Linked DNA regions of Homo sapiens: region 2 is linked to region 1. The links come from fine-mapping of genetic effects on gene expression. A gene starts in region 1. The other region holds a variant in brackets. All regions are shown on one strand. Distances are from middle to middle.

Region 1 (9,517 bases):
ATGGACAGCCCTGTGACATCAACTTGGAAGAGGTTGGACTCCAGATTTGGATACTCAGATCCCGGTGAGAGACTACCTTGTGCCCACTTTTAAACTAAGATGTAACTAATACCATAGAAGAGATTATACTAGGAATGTGCTTCAGTGGGGCAGTGGGAAAAACACTGGATCAGGTGCCAGAGGCTGGAGTTCTAGTTCCATTTTGCCTCTTCGAAGCTGTGTGATCTGGGAAAACCGTTCAATCTCTCTGAACTTCAGTGTCTTCACTAGAATGAGGGCAATAATCCTTTTGATTTCACTATTGCTGAGAGGACCCTATTAGTTCAAGTACTGTCATATCATTCTGTAAATTGTAGAGTAATATAAAATGTGAGAACCAATTAGGTTCTCCCACAATTTTAAGTTGTTATTCATCAATCTGAATTTTCAAAAGAATAACTAAACTGTGTATTTTGGGCACATTCTTCCTAATCCAACTATTTCTCCCTCCCTCCCTCCCTCCCTCCCTCCCTCCCTCCCTCCCTCCCTCCCTCCCTTCCTTCCTTCCTTCCTTCCTTCCTTCCTTCCTTCCTTCCCTCCTTCTTTCCATCCTTTTTCCTTTCCTTCCCTCCCTTCCTCTCTCCATCTCTTTCTCTCCCTCTTTTCCTCTTTCTTTCTTTCTTTCTTTCTTTCTTTCTTTCTTTCTTTCTTTCTTTCTTTCTTTCTTTCTTTCTTTCTTTCTTCTTTCACTACCAACTATAAAGCTGAGCAATGATGAGTTAGGGCAAAAGTGGTGGGTACATAAAATGAGCACCCAGGAGGGAACTTTAGGCCATGACTTTGGGCAGAGACCTCAAGCCACAGTGCCACAATGCCACCGTTTTCAGCTCAGTGCTAGCTCAGTTGGTCATCCTACTAGATGCCTGATTTCCTGCAGTGAGTTCAATTGTCTACACTGGCTGAAGCAAAGATTTTGGATCATAGGAACATATATATATATATATATGGAATCTAAGCGATAGTAATAGTCATTTCTAACTTTATTATTGAAGTTAACATGCCTGGAGCACTGCCCTTGGGTATCGTTTAATCTTCACAACAACCCTTCAAGGTAGGTGCTATTATAACATTTACTTTACAGATGAGGAAATGGAGGCTTTGGGAAATTACATTAGTCCAAGTTCATGGGACTGATATGTGTCACATGAATAGATTGGAACTTACGTTTCTCTGACTCCAAAGCTTTACATATATTATTTTATGTCAGTTGCTTTACATATATTATTTTTTAATACTTACAACAGCTGCCCAGAGCAAATTTTATTTCCATTTTTATGGATAAGAGAACTGAAGAGCTTAAGTAGCTTTTCCAAGGTCACACAGCTAGTAATTGGAAGAGCTGCCATTTAACCCCCCGTTAAGCTGGTTCTGTATCTCATGCTCCTGTTTATAACACTGGAGAGAGGACAAGGGTCAGCACCTCCATCACCCAGACTTCCCAGTTGATGGGAATTGAGACGTGACCAATCCATTGTCTCTCCATGGGACACAGAGGGTATTCAAGGGTGGGACTAACAGGGAAACTGAATTCATTCACTGAAATCAATGACTTTCTGAGTTACGGCTGTTCAACATGGAAAGGGCTTCCTTGGAACTGGAGATTTCTTCTGCACTATTGATTTTCAGCTGAGGTGGGGACGGATGTCCAAGTGGCTGCTATACAGTGAAGTCCCTTCAAGGGTCCTTTAAGCCCTGAGACAGATTTAAGGATCTGAAAAGTGATTGAAACCTCACTTTGCAGAAAAGCTGCCCAATGGGGTGCCCTCTCAAACCCTCTCCTTTATTCACTCTTAATTTGGGTAAGAAAGATGACATAGCCACAGTGAAAACCATGGGCTTTGGAAGAACCAAGCTTAAGTTCAGAAACACTAACTGTTGAACACTGGGCAAGTTGCTCAAATTCTCTGACCCAGTGTCCTCAATGCATGTCCTCATGTAAAGACAATATGAGAAGGCTTGTCTGGGAAGGTTGTTTTCAGGTTAAAGAAGATAATAATAGCTAAGACACCATATAGAATTACTTAATACATAGCAGGAATTGAATAATTGTAGTTACTTGCATCATGACTATTATTGTTGTTATTACATTATCTCCAGTTTTCAAGTCTGTTCTTTTAGAACAAACAACTCACTCCCTGCTTGTTTTCCATGGCCCTTCTGGTTCAGACTGTGAATCAGCTTTGTTTTTCAGCCTTTGGAGTGTGCGGTGCCCCAGGACAGGTGTGCCCAGGTCGGGGTGAGAGTCGGTCCCCTTGCGTTGTTGGATTGGGTTGGAGGCAGCATGCCTAGCCAGGGGCCCTGTAGTCTGGGGAGCTCATGCCCTTCAGTTCTCGGTGTAGGACATTCAAGGTCAGTGGCTGCTTCCTCCTGAGCTTCTGAACCCAGATATATGACGTCCTCCGGCCAGAGGCCCTTTCACAGAGCCCAGGAAGAACAGGTTGCTCATTGCCAGCATGGAAATAAACCTGAGTGTTGGCTCTCAGCCCCTTTTAAACTCAGACATGGTAGACATACATTAAATGAAGGCTGTAGAACATGGGCATCTTACACCTTTTGTGAAATTATATCTGAAGCGTGGCCAGCTTTTACTTCCCAAAACTCACTCTTTGTTCTATTTTGACCTCTACAATTTATTTCTAAAGACCACATCATATCCCAGTTTACCTCCTGGCTCTGCCGCTTTCTCAGCCATGTGATGCTGGGCAATTCCTAAGCTTTCTAGAACTTTAGTTTCTTCCTCTGAAAAATGAGTTTTGCATAACTTTTTGTGACCCTTAAATAAGCTAGTACTCGTTCCATGCCTGCCTAGGCCATAAACGACCATCAAATCATGATCAACCCTTTCCCACAGTAAAGCTCAGAAAAGGCTCCATCCTCAATGCCCTTTAAGACCATTACTGTCTCCCTTCCTGCCATTCTTCACTGGGATGAATAACTGCAGTTTTTCACATTTGCAGGCATCACATTTCTCTTTGTGCATGAAGCCCAACCCTCTATACAGTATTTATTCACAGATATCTGAACAGCACACTTGTAACTGGAAATCTGTCTGCCTCAAGACTTGTATTTCCTGTGTGTTATATTCCTAGCCCTGGGTCTTTCCTCTTGTAAAACAAATTAATTATCTTCTAACTCCTGGTCAGCTTCTTACCCACTCTGACCTCTGGACTTTTATCAGCACGCTTGTACTTAGCAGGAAACCCCCCCAAAACCCACTGGGTTTGGCTGTATGCCTTTTCTCAACGTTCTCACATATTTGTACGGTTATATTAAACTTTACAAAAGTACTTTCCTATACTTTATCTCATTCAATTCTCACAAGTCCCTTTGATAGAGGTAGGCTACCCTTAGTTTTATTGTTCAGAAAATGGAAACTCAGATAAGTTAAGTGATATTCAGAGCTATAATTTGAACGGGCTCTATAACTGATTATCTTTATTTTCTTCTTGAATATCCCAGGATTTCTGAGTTTCTATTCTATCAAGATTCTGTCTCCACTTCCTCCAAGGGAATTTTGGCTATTTGCTGGCTGAATGCTGCTGCAGCTCCCTCTTCCTTCATTCCTCTCTTCCTCCCTTCCTCCCTCCCTCCTTCTCTCTTTCCTTCCCCCCTTCTCTCCTTCGAAGGAGGAGGCCCCTTGCCCTGTGTCTCCTGTTTCTGATGGATGACACGTGTGTCTGGGCTGCAGAGCACCTGTCTGCCTGAACCCCAGGGAGGACACAAAGCCCTGGGGCTCAGCTACACCTCCTGCCCAATAGCCTGGGCTCATTGCCACTGACCACAAACGACTGAGTTGTTCAGAAAGGGAACAAAGCCAAGTCATAAGACTCCCTCACATTTTCTGGATCATAAAGCAGTTCTACATGCATTGTGATGAATTGTATGTACCCAGCATTGAGATTTAATCCCAGATGTAAACTGAGGACACAGGCCATCCCCAATTTCCCACTCTTCGTGCTGTTCACTTATACCCTTCCCTGCATAGAGCTGCCTCTACCTCCCTCCAGCCCTGACATAGGAGATGGTCCATACATGCTTATTAAATTACATTGAATCGTATTGCAGAGACAAGGTTCCTCAGACCAGTAACTCAACTCCTCCTTCTTGGAGGAGTCACCACCTTGGCTCAGGAACAGGGCAGAAATTAGAGTCGGCAGCTTGGATCTTTCAGCAGCATTTCCACTCAGACCATTGCTTAAAACCTCTTCTTATTCTCAATCACACCTATGTCTGTCATTCACTGGGATATTTTAAAAAGTCCTTGACTAAAACCTAGAGGAAACAGTGGGAATCCTAACCACTGGATAAATTATCCTCCCATTTAATAGAGCTTTTAATATATTTCAACATAGCAATGTCTTTTTGGGGTCCAGTTTTGATTAATTTCAAAAGATTAAAAGCAAACTTGTTGCTGAATATCTTTGGGATACAAAAGTCTATTTAAAATCAACAAGCCCAAAATCTCAGTCATTCACCACGACCTTTTGAATAACACCATTCCAGGTAAATTGAGCATGGGAAAGCTGTCTTATATATTGCATCTAGTACAATCGCTTATCGCTTTGTATCTGTGCAGTACTTTACAGTTTGGAAAAAATGTCGCCAATTTGTATTGATCCTTGCAGAAGAGGAGACCAAGCCCCTGAGGGCAGGAACCTTCTCAAAGTCTGTCATCCATGAATTATATGGTGGTTGTAAGACGAGAAGGTCAGCAGACTTTCCATTATTTCCTCCCGCTTTCCAGTTGTTCCAACTAAGATGACAGGAAATGTAATTCCACCACGTAAGTAGTTTTATAATGAGGATAATTCTTTACTCATTTATCTGCCTATGAGGTCCCTTAAGCCCCCTAAATATTAACCATCCTTGCAGGAATTTTTTAATACCTGCTAGATCCACACCAGAGTCAAGTACAACTTGAGCCTCCTTGCACAGAACCAGAGAGGGTGCTGGCACTTGAGACGTAAAATGTGCTCTTACTCTATGGGACCCTTTATAGTCCAAACCAGCCACAGAACCAACCCACCTCCAGCTCAAATGTCTGCCTTGCTCCACTCACCTGCCTGTGTGGACTCCGTTCAGCTCAACTGAGTCTGAGGGGCTCTTGTCCTCTTTAAATATATGAAGGCTGTCACCAGCCTTGGCCTGCTGGGGGAAGGGCAGGAGGGAGGCCAAGGGAGAGGGTGAATGAGACGTGAGTAACACAACTGCTATCAGGGGCTGAAAATAGACTGTGACCAAAGCCCTGAGTTTTGTCTCCCCCAACCCCCCAGCCAGCTGTGAGCCTCTTGGAGAACCGAATCACTTGGGTTCTATTTGCACTGCCAATTGCTTATGGCACCAAGGGATCAATTTATGAAGTGTGTCATTTCTGATCAAGTGGTTGGAACAGGAACAAGAGCTAAGGGTTTAACATCAAAAATCATTTCTCCAGGCCCCCACCCCACTGACCTTCCTGGAAATCATTGCAGGGTACCTGCAAATGAGTCATGTGCCATATCTGGGAGCCTCTGGAACTTAGAGCCACAGGTCACCACACTCGTGAAGAGAACTCAGAGCTAAAAATAAGGGTGATGGGTGTCTGAAACGATACTTAGATAATCTCTTCAAAGAAGCTTGGGAGAAAAAAGGTTGGCACATCACTTGGGACCTGTCACTCCATCTATCCTAGGAAACGAAGTTTTCTCTAAAAAGTTTTGATTTACTTTGTTATTATCCTTTTCTATTTAAGAATTTGATACAGCAGTGCATATTTATCATCATCACATTATATTTATAACATCTTGATATGTCTCTGTAGACCCATATTTTCTTTGGAGGTCTAATTTTTCTTTGTCTGGAATTCACACCGTTTAAATTTGATCAAGCACCAGGGACTGATATAAATTATGGCATTGAAAAGCTGACAAGAGGTTCAGAGATGTGAAGACCAATTCTTCATGTTATAGATGAGGAAACTGAGGCACCAAGCCCCTTCCACTCATGTTGACCCGGATGTTGAGGTAAGGTACATGTAGAACCCAACCGGGAGGTTCATGATCCAGCCTTCACATCAGATATTAGCCCTTTGGTTACCTGCCCACAAAGCAATTGTTGAAGGATAGAATATTTCACTGTCAAGAAGGTTGCAGTAATTTCACAAAGACGGCCGTGGCATAGCCTCCTATGAGATATCCGTGGTCTGTGTTTTCACTAAATGGCATCTTCATCATAAAGACGAGGCAATCACGAGGATTTTAGAAAGTTAAAGCTAGAAAGGACTTTAGAAATCGTCTAGGATAGTGGCTTTTGTTTGTTTGTTTGTTTGTTTGTTTAGAGAAATGGTCCCGTTCTGTTGCCTAAGCTGGAGTACAGTGGCATGATCACAGCTCACTGCAGCCTCGATCTTTTGGGCTCAAGCAATCCTCCTGTCTCAGCCTCCTGAGTAGCTGGGACTATAGGCGCACACCAGCACGCCTGGCTAATTTTTTTGTAGGGATGTGGTTTCACCATTTTGCCTAGGCTGGTCTCAAACTTTGGGGTCAAGTGATCTGCCCACCTCGGCCTCTCAATGTGCTGAGATTACAGGCTTGAGTCACTGAAACTGGTCAACCAATAGTAGCTTTAAAATTTTTTTTGTGTGTGTGTTTGCATCAGAATACTTTTTTCTGTAGATAAGAGGAAAATCAGTATATAAAGCAGATAAAAGAGGAGCTTCCAGTGATGATGAGCATTTTTTCATGTGTCTTTTGGCTGCATAAATGTCTTCTTTTGAGAAGTGTCTGTTCCTATCCTTCGCCCACTTGTTGATGGGGTTGTCTGTTTTTTTTTCTTGTAAATTTGTTTGAGTTCATTGTAGATTCTGGATATTAGCCCTTTGTCAGATGAGTAGATTGCAAAAATTTTCTCCCATTTTTGTAGGTTGCCTGTTCACTCTGATGGTAGTTTCTTTTGCTGTGCAGAAGCTCTTTAGTTTAATTAGATCCCATTTGTCAATTTTGGTTTTGTTGCCATTGCTTTTGGTGTTTTAGACATGAAGTCCTTGCCCATGCCTATGTCCTGAATGGTATTGCCTAGGTTTTCTTCTAGGGTTTTTATGGTTTTAGGTCTGAGAAATGCAAATCAAAACCACGATGAGATACCATCTCACACCAGTTAGAATGGCGATCATTAAAAAGTCAGGAAACAGTTGCTGGAGAGGATGTGGAGAAATAGGAACACTTTTACACTGTTGGTGGGACTGTAAACTAGTTCAACCATTGTGGAAGTCAGTGTGGTGATTCCTCAGGGATCTAGAACTAGAAATACCATTTGACCCAGCCATCCCATTACTGGGTATATACCCAAAGGATTATAAATCATGCTGCTATAAAGACACATGCACACTTATGTTTACTGTGGCACTATTCACAATAGCAAAGACTTGGAACCAACCCAAATGCCCAACAATGATAGACTGGATTAAGAAAATGTGGCACATATACACCATGGAATACTATGCAGCCATAAAAAATGATGAGTTCATGTCCTTTATAGGGACATGGATGAAGCTGGAAACCATCATTCTCAGCAAACTATCACAAGGACAAAAAACCAAACACCGCATGTTCTCACTCATAGGTGGGAATTGAACAATGACAACACATGGACAAGGAAGTGGAACTCACACACCGGGGCCTGTTGTGGGGTGGGGGGGGGGGGGTAGGGATAGCATTAGGAGATATACCTAATGCTAAATGACGAGTTAATGGGTGCAGCACACCAACATGGCACATGCATACATATGTAGCTAACCTGCACATTGTGCACATGTGCCCTAAAACTTAAAGCATAATAAATAAATAAATAAATAAATAAATAAATAAATAAAGAGGAGCTTCCATGCATAAGTTGGAGTTGAACAATGAGAACACATGGACACAGAGAGGGGAACAACACACCCCAGGGCCTGCTGTGGGGTGGGGGATGGGTGAGGAGAGGGAACTTAGAGGATGGATCAATAGGTGCAGAAACCACCGTGGCACACGTATGCCTATGTAACAAACCTGCACACTCTGCACATGTATCCCGTTTTATTTTTTTAGGAGAACAAAGGAAAAAATAAAGTTATAATTAAGCATTAAAAAATAAAAGGAGCTTCCTTGCTTGAAATGAATGCTGCACTTTGACCGTCACGTCTTGCCCTCTTTGCACATTCTGAACTTGCCTTTACACACCTCCCCACAACATGATGTGTAGTTTCAGTTTTGGATTGTAATTAGTTTTGTTCATTATGGGTTAGTACTTACTTAAACCTAATGATAAATTTTAGTGCTTTCTTCACTCAATTACTGTTTTGTTATTGTTGTTGTTTGTTTTTTGAGATGGAGTTTTGCTCTTGTCACCCAGGCTGGAGTGCAGTGGCGCAGTCTCAGCTCACTGCAACCTCTGCCTCCTGGGTTCAAGTGATTCTCCTGCCTCAGCCTCCCAAGTAGCTGGGGTTACAGGTGCCCACCACCATGCCTGGCTAATTTTTGTATTTTTAGTAGAAACGGGGTTTCACCGTGTTGGCCAGGCTGATGTCGAACTCCTGACCTCAGGTGATCCAACCAACTCAGCCTCCCAATTACTGTTCTTTATTTACTTTTTGTACCTTACATTTTTAATTCTGTGTGTGTGCATGTGTGTGTGTGTGTGTGTGTGTGTGTGTGTGTGAGGTAAATCATTCTCGATGAATTCATTGAGAGAGTCTGCTGTAAACTTACTGAATTATCACATAATGTAACAAATGCCATAGACAGGCTGGTTTAAACAACAGAAACTTATTTTTGCACAATTCCAGCAACTGGAAGTTCAAGACCAACGTGCTGGCAGGGTTGGTTTCTTCTGAATGTAGATGGCTGTTTTCTCTCTGTATCTGCACACGGTCTTCCTTGTGTATCTGGGTCCTAATTTCCTCTTCTTACAAGGACAGCAGTCATATTGGATTAGGAGCCACCCATATGATTTCATTTTAACTTAATTACCTCTTTAAGAACCCTATCTCTAAATACAGTCCCGTTCTGAGCTACTGGGAGTTAGGACTTCAACATACGAATTTTGGAGGGACACTATCCCGCCCCTCATAGTCTTCATTTTGCTTTCACTTGAATGCTAGTTTGGTTAAATTTAGGAATCTCTATCCAAAATAATTTTCAGTCAGACCTTTGAAAACTGTCTTCAATTATTTTTAGTAACGTACATGACAGTTTGGTGCCAGTCATATTCATGTTCCTTTATTGACTTGTCTTGTTTCCTCTAGAAACTTTCAGGATCTTCTCTTGAATTTTATGACAATTTCCTGTGTTACGGCCTTTTAAATTTTATTTTGCTTGAAATTTAGTGGATGAGTTCAACTTGAAAACTCACTTTTTTTCCTTTAGGAAATTTCCTTTTATTATTTCTCTCATTAATCCCTCCCTATATGTAATGTTTCCTCTTGCTGAAACTCTCATTAGAAGTTAGAATTTCTTTGTCCTTT
Region 2 (9,517 bases), 25 kb before region 1:
TCTTTCACCCATGCTGGAGTGCAGTGGCGGGATCTCGGCTCACTGCAACCTCCGCCTTCCCGTGTCAAGTGATTCTCCTGCCTCAGCCTCCCAAGTAGCTGGGATTACAGGTGCCCACCACTACGCCCAGCTAATTTTTGTATTTTTAGTGGAGACGGGGTTTCACCACGTTGGCCAGGCTGCTCTCGAACTCCTGACCTCGTGATCCACCCGCCTCGGCCTGCCAAAGTGCTGGGATTACAGGCGTGAGCCACCGTGCCCTGCCGCAGTTAGGTATTTTAAATAGACTATCTCAAATCCTTAAAATAATATGATGAGAGTGGTATGATGAGCTGCTTTACAGATAAGGAATTTGAGGTTTAAATGAGATAACTCTGTGAGTAGTTATGGTTTTTAATGATTTAAGAATTTTTAAGTTACCTTAATTCTCAGTCTTCCCCATGTTTTTGGAATTAAATGTTCTTTACTTCTGATTAACTTTTTCTTTGTCCCTTTTCAAGGAGATACTAAGGAGAACACACAAATTGAGATAATTGCACTGATACTGATCTTATATTGTTTTATTTATCTAAAAGTTGCACACTGAATGTGTGCAACCTTCCACCCTTCTTTTTCAGATTGCCTTTCTGGGCCTGACCTCCCATGAGAGAATCAGCCTGCAGAAGCAGAGCAAGCATATGAAACAGACGTTGTCCCTCAGGAAGACACCATACAAGTAAGCGAGACCTGTTTTGGATGCTGAGTCCTGTGGAAGATCCCTAGTCACTGGTTTCCTAAGCTGGTGCCACTACCCATGGCCATGCTGCTGTTCTGTAATTTGCCATCTAGTACAGTTGACCCCCCTTTTCTTAGAGAAGCTTTAGTGATGGGGTGAGTGGTAAAGTCGTGAGCCCCACGGTGGTAAGAATTCGAGAGTTAGTTTACTGGACACAGCACAAATAGTAAGTGACTTTGAAGTTTTGCCAAGGTGGGGAATCTCTCCAGTCAAGCCACATGGTCACAAGGTTGTTTGTTGCTGGCGTGGAGTTGATGTGAGATAATTAAGTGTATGGCTGAGAGAGCCAGCCACAGGGTGCTCTGTAGAGAGCGTTCACTTGTGTGCTTTGCCAGGATTTTCAGCCTGGCTTTCTATCACCACTAATTCTTCTAGCCCTATGTTGAATGTGCCCTCTTGTACCAGGGAGAAGCCAATTTTTCAGATTTGGATTTGTTCCCCCTGGAGCATTTGGTTGTATAAAACACGTTTTCAGTTGAAAATGAGAGTATGTATAGAAAGACCTTCGTCTTACGATATGAAAGATTGGGCTTTGAAGCTTATCTCCCTGCCACTTATGGCAGGGTCTTGGAAACTGGGAGTGCTGCAGAGGTGACCCAGAGCCCTCTGGGGATTTGAATGCTCGCTGCATATCTCATGAGCAGTCTATTTTAAAGCATGCTGTTGGTACAAGATGAAACTGTTAGGCTGTTAGACAAGGGGATCAGAGACTGGGATATAACTACAATGTGTATTTAGGAGAGGAGAGAAATTGACTTAACTGGGAAGAGGTGGCTAAAGCAATGGCGAGTGGAAAGGAGCGTAAACTTGTGATGATTGTTTCACATTGACAGTGATAATAAAATCCCTTTCTTTGTAGCTAAACCAGAGGAATAAATGTTTACTCCACTAAACTATGGAAGCCTGTGATAGAGTTGGAATTTGAAGCTGAGCCTTGAGAGATGTGGGGCAGGGCACAATGGAGTTGGGAGGGAGGAAGGGCATTCCAAGCCCTAGAGAAGAGTCTGAATAGAGGGACACATGAGAGCACTAGAGCACGTTTGCTGAATGATGGCAGCATCAACTAGAGGAACTCAAGGGAAAACCTGAGTCCCGCCCAAACCAAAGATTTTACTTGTTTTCCTCCCCTAAGTTACTTTTACTCAGTACAGTAGTCACCCTTTCTCCATGAGGGATATGTTCTAAGAACCCCAATGGATGCCTGAAACTGCAGATAGTACTGAACTCGGTATATACCATGTTATTTCAGTCTGATAACCCAACAGGCAGGTAGTGTAGACAGAGTGGAAACACCAGACAAAGGGATGATTTATGTCTCAGGCAGACAGAGCTGGATGGCGTGAGATTTCATCATGCTCCGCAGAACGGCATGCAAGTTAAAGCTTACTAATTGTTTATTTCTGGAATTTTTCATTTTAATATTTTTGGGCTGCTGTTGACCACAGGTAACTGAAACTGAAACCAAGGGGAAGGGGACACTACTCTAACTAGCTTTTGAACCAGGCCCTATACATTTCTAGCATGCATCCCCACTGCCAACCCATCAACTCCACATAGCCTTCTTCCCAGGAAGTTGCCCTCTGAGTAGTGTTGGTCCTTTACTGGCAGCAATGCCATCATCCCCATGCAGAACACAATCTTCTAAACAGCAACGCAGTCATCCTCATGGACAGGTGTGTTTTGTTGTGTGTAAGGGATTGGGTTAGGCACTTAAAAGATAGAGCATATGCGTAAAAATGAGCATTTCTCATAACTGGAATAGATAGTGGTACTTCCGAAATTTAATGGAGAAAAAATGATGCCTAAGACAGTGCAGTCAGGAAAGCTCCAGTGGAAATGTGGGTATTGGCCTGGGCCTTGAGAACTGGTAGGACTTGAAAGGATAAGGGGGTTCCTGAGCTAAGTGTAGAGCAGTGTGCGTTCCAGGCCCACGCATCTATGATCATGGGAAAAATAGAGCCAGAGTAGCTGGAGCAGGAGATTTATAAAGATGCACAGAGGAGCTAGAACTAGAGGGATACCTTATATAGAGCCTTGAATACAAAGAGGAGGAATGTTTATTTGAGCCTCTAGGCAGAGGAGTATCTTTAAAGGGTTTTGATTGGGAGGTGAGGGGCTATGACTATATCAGGGTTTTTGGAGGACAACAGTCTGCAATATGCAAGATGAATTAAAAGGAATTGAGACAGAGAATTCATTTAGAGAGTTACTTATAAGGTTTAGGGAGGCCGGGTGCGGTGGCTCATGCCTGTAATCCCAGCACTTTGGGAGGCTGAGGTGGGCGGATCACGAGGTCAGGAGATTGAGACCATCCTGGCTAACACGGTGAAACCCCGTCTCTACTAAAAAAATACAAAAAATTAGCCGGGTGTGGTGGTGGGCGCCTATAGTCCCAGCTACTCAGGAGGCTGAGGCAGGAGAATGGCGTGAACCTGGGAGGTAGAGCTTGCAGTGAGCCGAGATCACGCCACTGCACTCCAGCCTGGGTGACAGAGCGAGACTCCGTCTCAAAAAAAAAAAAAAAAAAAAAAAAAAAAGGTTTAGGGAAAATCCCATCTTGTTGATTACAGTTGTTCTGGCCTATGTGGCCTTTGAGGTAATCAAGGTCTGAATTAGGGAAGTAGGAATAGAAAGAAAGAAACTTATTGATGTCAGTGGCCAGTCCATTAAGTGGGGAATCCAAAATGAAGTGATGATGAAAAACCCAATTAAGTGGCTGAGCGAGCAGAAGCCAGGAAATCTCCAAATATAGATTCAGGTCCAGAAATAGGCTTCAGTTTTAAGGTACCAGAAGCCCAGGAACTATCTGATCTACCCCATCTACCCCTGGATTTCTGCAAGATGTTCAAAGGACATTGCATATTATAGATTCTCCATAAATGTTTGTCAAGCTACACAGGAAATATAGTAAGACATGTTCTCTTTTTTTTTTTCTTG[G/A]CAGTCTTGGATTCATGCAGAACCTGGCAGATTTCTTTCAGTGTGGCTGCTTTGGCTTGGTGAAGCCCTGTGTGGTAGATTGGACATCACAGTACACCATGGTCTTTCACCCAGCCAGGGAGAAGGTTCTTCGCTCAGTATGAAGAAAAGCAACCCAAAACTCTCAATCTGATTTGTTTTTGTTTATGTCGATGCCCTGTAGTTTGAAAGTGAAGTAAAGATTTAGAATTCACCTAAGTCCAAAGGAAAACACGTGGTTTTTAAAGCCATTAGGTAAAAAAAGTTCTCAATAAAGGCATTACAATTTTTTAGGTTTAGAAAGATGGACTTTTCTGATAAATCTTGGCAGACATCTAAAAAAAAAACCATATTTTTCACAAGAAAATGCAAGTTACTTTTTTTGGAAATAATACTCACTGATTATGGATAAAATGGAATATTTTCAGATACTATATTGGCTGTTTCAAAATAGTACTATTCTTTAAACTTGTAATTTTTGCTAAGTTATTTGTCTTTGTTGTATCTATAAATATGTAAAAAATATTTAAATAGATGTACCTGTTTTGCTTTCACACTTAATAAAAAATTTTTTTTTGTAGTTGAGACTTGGTTTCTGACACTTAACACTTCTAGAGTCTTAAATTAAGATGTACATAGGACACAAATTAGTTCACAATTCCAGGAATGAGTTGAGATTATGATTAATACCAGTAAGCAAGATTTAATTTGGTTTTTCATCTTACTTAGAAAATAGAACATAGAAAGTCTTAAATATTAATTACAACTTTACTTAGTACCCTCAAAATATTAGACTGATATGACTGTAATTACTAATTTCCCTTGTTCTACAGGAAATGCTAATTCAACTTTAGTATAGTATTTATACACCCCTGGGCATGGCACCTTCCTGCTGAATAACCTCCCTTGGGTTCCTGTTGCTCTTGGGGTAAAAGCAAAAATTCTCATTGTGACCTACAAAGCCTTGAAGCATATAATCCTGTTTTGTTTAGCAGTGTCAGTGGAGCATGTTGTACTCTAATCATGTGGCCTTTCATTGCAAGGATCCGTTCTCTCTTCTACCAGAGATAAGAGATGCAGATAAGGAAACTAAAGCCAAAGAAGTTTTTATCTTCTCCAGGGTCACAGAGATACCAAATGGGGCTGCCACTGTACAGTCACAGTCACCTAGAATATCACGTGACACATAGTATTTGTTCAAAAAATATTAGAATTTGTTGAACCAATTTCAGGGTTTTAAGCAAGAGATGATGCTATCAGAATTGTGTTTGAAGACTGTGCTTCTCAATTGGAGTACAGAAGAGCTTTTTCAAGGTATATTCTCTTTCTCCCTTCTTCTCTCACCAACTCCTACCAAGTTAGTATTGTGGTCCAAATGGTCCAGAGACATTAGATCAGAGTCACAGGGCCAGGGTGGGTGTCTAGGGCTCACAGTTTAAAATTCAGTTTCTCCATCTCAGACCTTTCAAATCAGTCTCTAGGGAGAGAGTGCTGGAATCCTAATGATTCTTACATATGCATACTACTGTTTGAGAATCATTTACTTAAGGAACCTTACCTTCTCCATTCTATACATTGTGAAAAGTTTAAGCTTGAGAATCACTGCTTAATAGGTATGCAGTTGTAGTGGTAAAGAGACCAGATTCTAGGGACCCTGGGTTTGAATCTATGACCTATTAATTACCACATAAGTTACTTTTAATCCCTTTGGGCAAATGACATAAATCTCTAGAAACTCAGTTTCCTCATTTGGATTATGTAGATAATAATAGTAAACAATTTGAAATGTCATTATGAGAATTAAATGTGTTAATGTTTAAAAGTGCTTAGAATTGTACTTGGCATATAGTAAATGTTCAATAAATGCTGGCTATTAATTGAGAAGTCTAACAGAAAACTGATTACCAGAAAGATAAGCTAGAGGTAGAGAAATGCACCAAATCCAGTCTTCCGTGCTCTGTGTTGTATGTTCTAGGGCTAGAATTCTGCAAGCTACAGTCTCCCTGCCAGATGACTTCCTGTTAAAGTCGGTAGTAGACTGCAAGGAGGAGCAGAAAAGGGACTTATTCCATTCTTCTTGCCCGCTCTTCCTCTCAGTGTTGCTCCAACGATGGCCCTTTGCCCTGCAATGACATTTTGGAACCAATGTCTAACTTTTCTTCTTCCCAAAACCTACTTCATTGTGCCCCATTAGAAGTACTAGCAATAACCAGGCAGGGCTCTCTCCTTTGACATCTGACTTCTGCCCCGGGATACTTCTTCTCTGGGCATCTGAATTATGATAACCCATCTCTTCTCTTAGTTTCCCTATTCCCAGGAGTGATAGCTGCCTCTAGCAATTACTATCTCTATGTTAAATCAGTGTGTTCCCTTGTTACTTTTTCAAAAATAATAGCACCTGTTTAGCTAATTCCCTTTACTATATTCTCTTTATTAAAATAACTAGTGTGGTTTCTGTTTTTCTGGTGAAACTTGACAGATACAGAATATTAGAAATAAGCTGTTAATGATGGTCTAGGCAAGAGGTAATGAAGGCCTGAAGCAAGATGATGACAGTGGCACAGAGGAGACCCAGCAGGCCCAGATCACAGAGTGGATGCGGGGAGAAAAAGAGGAGTCAAAGATGGCTTTGAAATGTTGAACCCAATGAATGAGAGGTTGAAGATGCTACTCTGAGAAATAAGGAACACAGTGTGGGGAGACTAGGTGATGAGTTTGGTGGCTGGGATCTACTGAGTTTGAGATACTTGCAGGCTATCCAGTGGGAAAGTCTAGAAGGCAACTGGAAAGAGGCCAGGGCATGGATGGGAATCATCTGCATAGATGGATAAGATTGTCACAGGGGAGAGGTAGGAAATAGATGAAAATGGAGAGTCACCTTCCTCAAATGGAAAGATGAATGCTAAAAAGATACCAAAGATGACATCTAATGCGAACAAACAGACTAAAAAGTGTGAGAGGAAGGAGAAGGGCAGGAGCAAAAGCTTATGGAATATGGATTTAGGGAGCTGGAGAAGGAAGAAGTAACTAAAAGGAGATCGAGTAGGAGGACAAGAAAGTAGTGTCAGCCAGACACAGTGCCACTCCTGTAATCCTAGCACTTTGGGAGGCCGAGGTGGGCAGATCACCTGAGGTCGGGAGTTTGAGACCAGCCTGACCAACATGGAGAAACCCCATCTCTACTAAAAATACAAAATGAGCTGGGTGTGGTGGCACATTCCCGTAATCCCTGCTACTCGGGAGGCTGAGGCAGGAGAATCGCTTGAACCTGGGAGGTGGAGGTTGCGGTGAGCTGAGATTGTGTCACTGCACTCCAGCCTGGGCAACAAGAGGGAAACTCCACCTCAAAATAATAATAATAATAATAATAATAGTGTCATAGAATCAAGAGAGGATTCATTTCAGAGAGGAAGCAGTCAGTTGGCAGGAACTAAGGAGCAGCTTGAGCAGAAGTTGAGAATAGCTGATGAAAGACAAAAGAGTTTGTGATTAAGAGGTTATTAGTAGGGCCGGGCGCGGTGGGGATTGGCAAATCACTTTAGGCCAGGAGTTCGAGACCAGGCTGGCCAACATGGTGGAAACCCCATCTCTACTAAAAATACAAAAATTAGCCAGGCATGGTGGTACACACCTGTAATCCCAGCTACTCAGGAAGCTGAGGCAAGAGAATCGCTTGAACCCAGGAGGCAGAGGTTGCAGTGAGCTGAGATAGTGCCATTGCACTCTAGCCTGTGCAACAGAGAGAGACTCCATCTCAAAAAAAAAAAAAAAAAGAGGTTATTAGTGGCCTCAGTTATTAGTGGTGGTTGAGGATGGAGAGTAGAGGCAAGGAAGACTAAAGAGTCTAAAAGACTAAGGACTAAGTGGAATCTAGTCTTACAGCTTGGCTCTGAAAGGAGAGAGGAGACGGCAGTAGCTTGTGGCATAATAGCAAGGTTTAGTCTTTGTTTTATTTTAAATCCAAGACAAACCCAATCATGTTTTTCAGGGCCAGGGGAATGTGACTGTTATGCTATTTTGCCATAACTTTATTCCTTTCTTCAAATATGTATATAGCCACATTGGAGACAACAAATTTGAATCTCTTTCACAAATATCAGGCAAAATCTTGATCATGCCCCCTGTGACTTAGGATGGACGCTGGCACCATGAGTGGAATCACTTGGATGTAGCACAGTCTATATTTCAGGTGTGTAGTAGTCATGGGAGCTCATGCAATAATAAATATCCTCCCAATCTCAGTGGCTTCACACAATGTTTCTTTCTCATGTCATGGTCTGTTTAGCTGTTAGCAGGTGTTCTTCCATGCAGTGACTCAAGCTGCTTCCCATCTAGTGGCTCCACCATTCCTAGGGCCTCAGTATCCACTGGACTTCTGCATCCAGACATATGGAAAGAATGGAGACTCTCCTGAAAGGTCATGGAGGCCAGGACTTCATTGGGCAAACTCACTCATGTGTCTCAGTGAACAGCAAGGGAGCCTGGGAAATGTAGTGGAACAGCATACCCAAGAAGTGGAAGGGAAATACAACTATTGCTGAACCACAATAAGCTTCTTCCTTTGTTTTGTTTTTTTCTAAACTCATTCAGTCCACTATGTAATAAACTTTTAGATTCTAGCAGAATTTGCATTTAGCCTGGCCTATACTCTCCCCTATTTCATTCACTCAACAAATGTTTATTAGGTGTCTTCTATGTGTCAAGCACTGTGAATGGCTTGACATGTCACATTCTTACAAGGAGGCAAATAGGAATTCAAAATTTCAATACGATGACATAAGTACTATGCTAATTACATACCGGCTATGGGAGTACAGAGGTAGATTAATTCTGCCCAGGTAGTTCAGGAACAATTTCCAGAGGAGATGGCATTTGACCTGTGACTTGCTTAATAGGAGTTCACCAGGCTAAGAAGTTGGATTAGTGGGTAGAGATGGGGGGAGGTTCCCATCTTCCAGGAATTCTAGGCAGAAGGAACAGCATTAGCAAAGACATGATGGGGTGAGGGTTCTGGGCATGTTTGGAAAGCTCCGAGTCTTTGAGTGTAGCTGGAACTTGTCTGGAAGAGATTGTCTAAAGCTAAGTTGAAGGGGTAAGGCCAAGGCCAATTTGTGAAAGTCTTTATGTGATACACTGTTATGGGCTGAACTGTGTCTCTGCAAAATTTATTTGTTGAAGTCCTAACCCCCAGTACCTCAGAATGTGATGGCTGCATGTGTAGATAAGGGCCTTGAAAAAGGTAATTAAGTTACAGTGAGGTCATTCAGGTGGTCCCTAATCCAATATGACTGGTGTCCTTCCAAGAAGTGGAGATTAGACCACAGACACCCACAGAGCAAAAACCATGTGAAGACAAAGGGAGAAGACACCCATCTCCAAGCCAATGAGAGTGGTGTCAGAAGAAACTAACACTGCTGACACCTTGATCTCAGACTTCAGCCTCCAGAAATGTGAGACGATACGTTTCTATTAAGTCACTCAGCCTGTGGTACTTTCTTATGGCAACCCTAACAGACTATTACACATCCTAAAAAGAGGGATGGAGGGGATGTATTCTAGAGACATTTGGAGTCAGAATCCAGGAGACTTGAGAAGTGAGGCAAGGTCAGGTGAGGAAGAGAGCAAAGCTAAGGATGGCTAAAGTTTTTAGCTTCAGATTTCCTGGGTAGCTGGACGGTGGGGCGAGTCACTGTGAAATGCAGCAGAGGAGGAGGAGGTTGCATTGTCCTGTGGTCATTTCTCAAATATGTGTTACCCCTCAGCAAACCTGGAAATCCCATGCATAGT

Alleles and levels. Alleles are on the strand shown, and positions count from the first base shown. SD is a standard deviation of normalised expression in the study named.
For the expression in prefrontal cortex of the gene that starts at base 5,128 in region 1, allele A in region 2 goes with a lower level than allele G (small effect, 0.34 SD a copy in CommonMind).

What was found. PIP is the estimated chance that this variant, and not a neighbour inherited with it, causes the effect.
Region 2: its variant is fine-mapped to the expression of CSRP3 in prefrontal cortex (CommonMind, PIP 0.95).

The regions. Positions count from the first base shown.
Region 1 is chr11:19,196,856-19,206,372 of GRCh38, forward strand. CSRP3 (cysteine and glycine rich protein 3) reads right to left here and starts at 5,128. Exons shown (of 6, transcript NM_003476.5): 1 at 5,099-5,128. CSRP3-AS1 (CSRP3 and E2F8 antisense RNA 1) reads left to right here. Exons shown (of 6, transcript NR_183675.1): 1 at 1-64.
Region 2 is chr11:19,172,106-19,181,622 of GRCh38, forward strand. ZDHHC13 (zDHHC palmitoyltransferase 13) reads left to right here. Exons shown (of 17, transcript NM_019028.3): 16 at 618-715; 17 at 3,717-4,310. The coding sequence ends at 3,855. Among named protein-coding and RNA genes, the nearest start is that of CSRP3-AS1, 20 kb to the right of the region's middle. RefSeq lists an enhancer at 432-2,884. The variant G/A (reference allele first, on the strand shown) is at 3,713.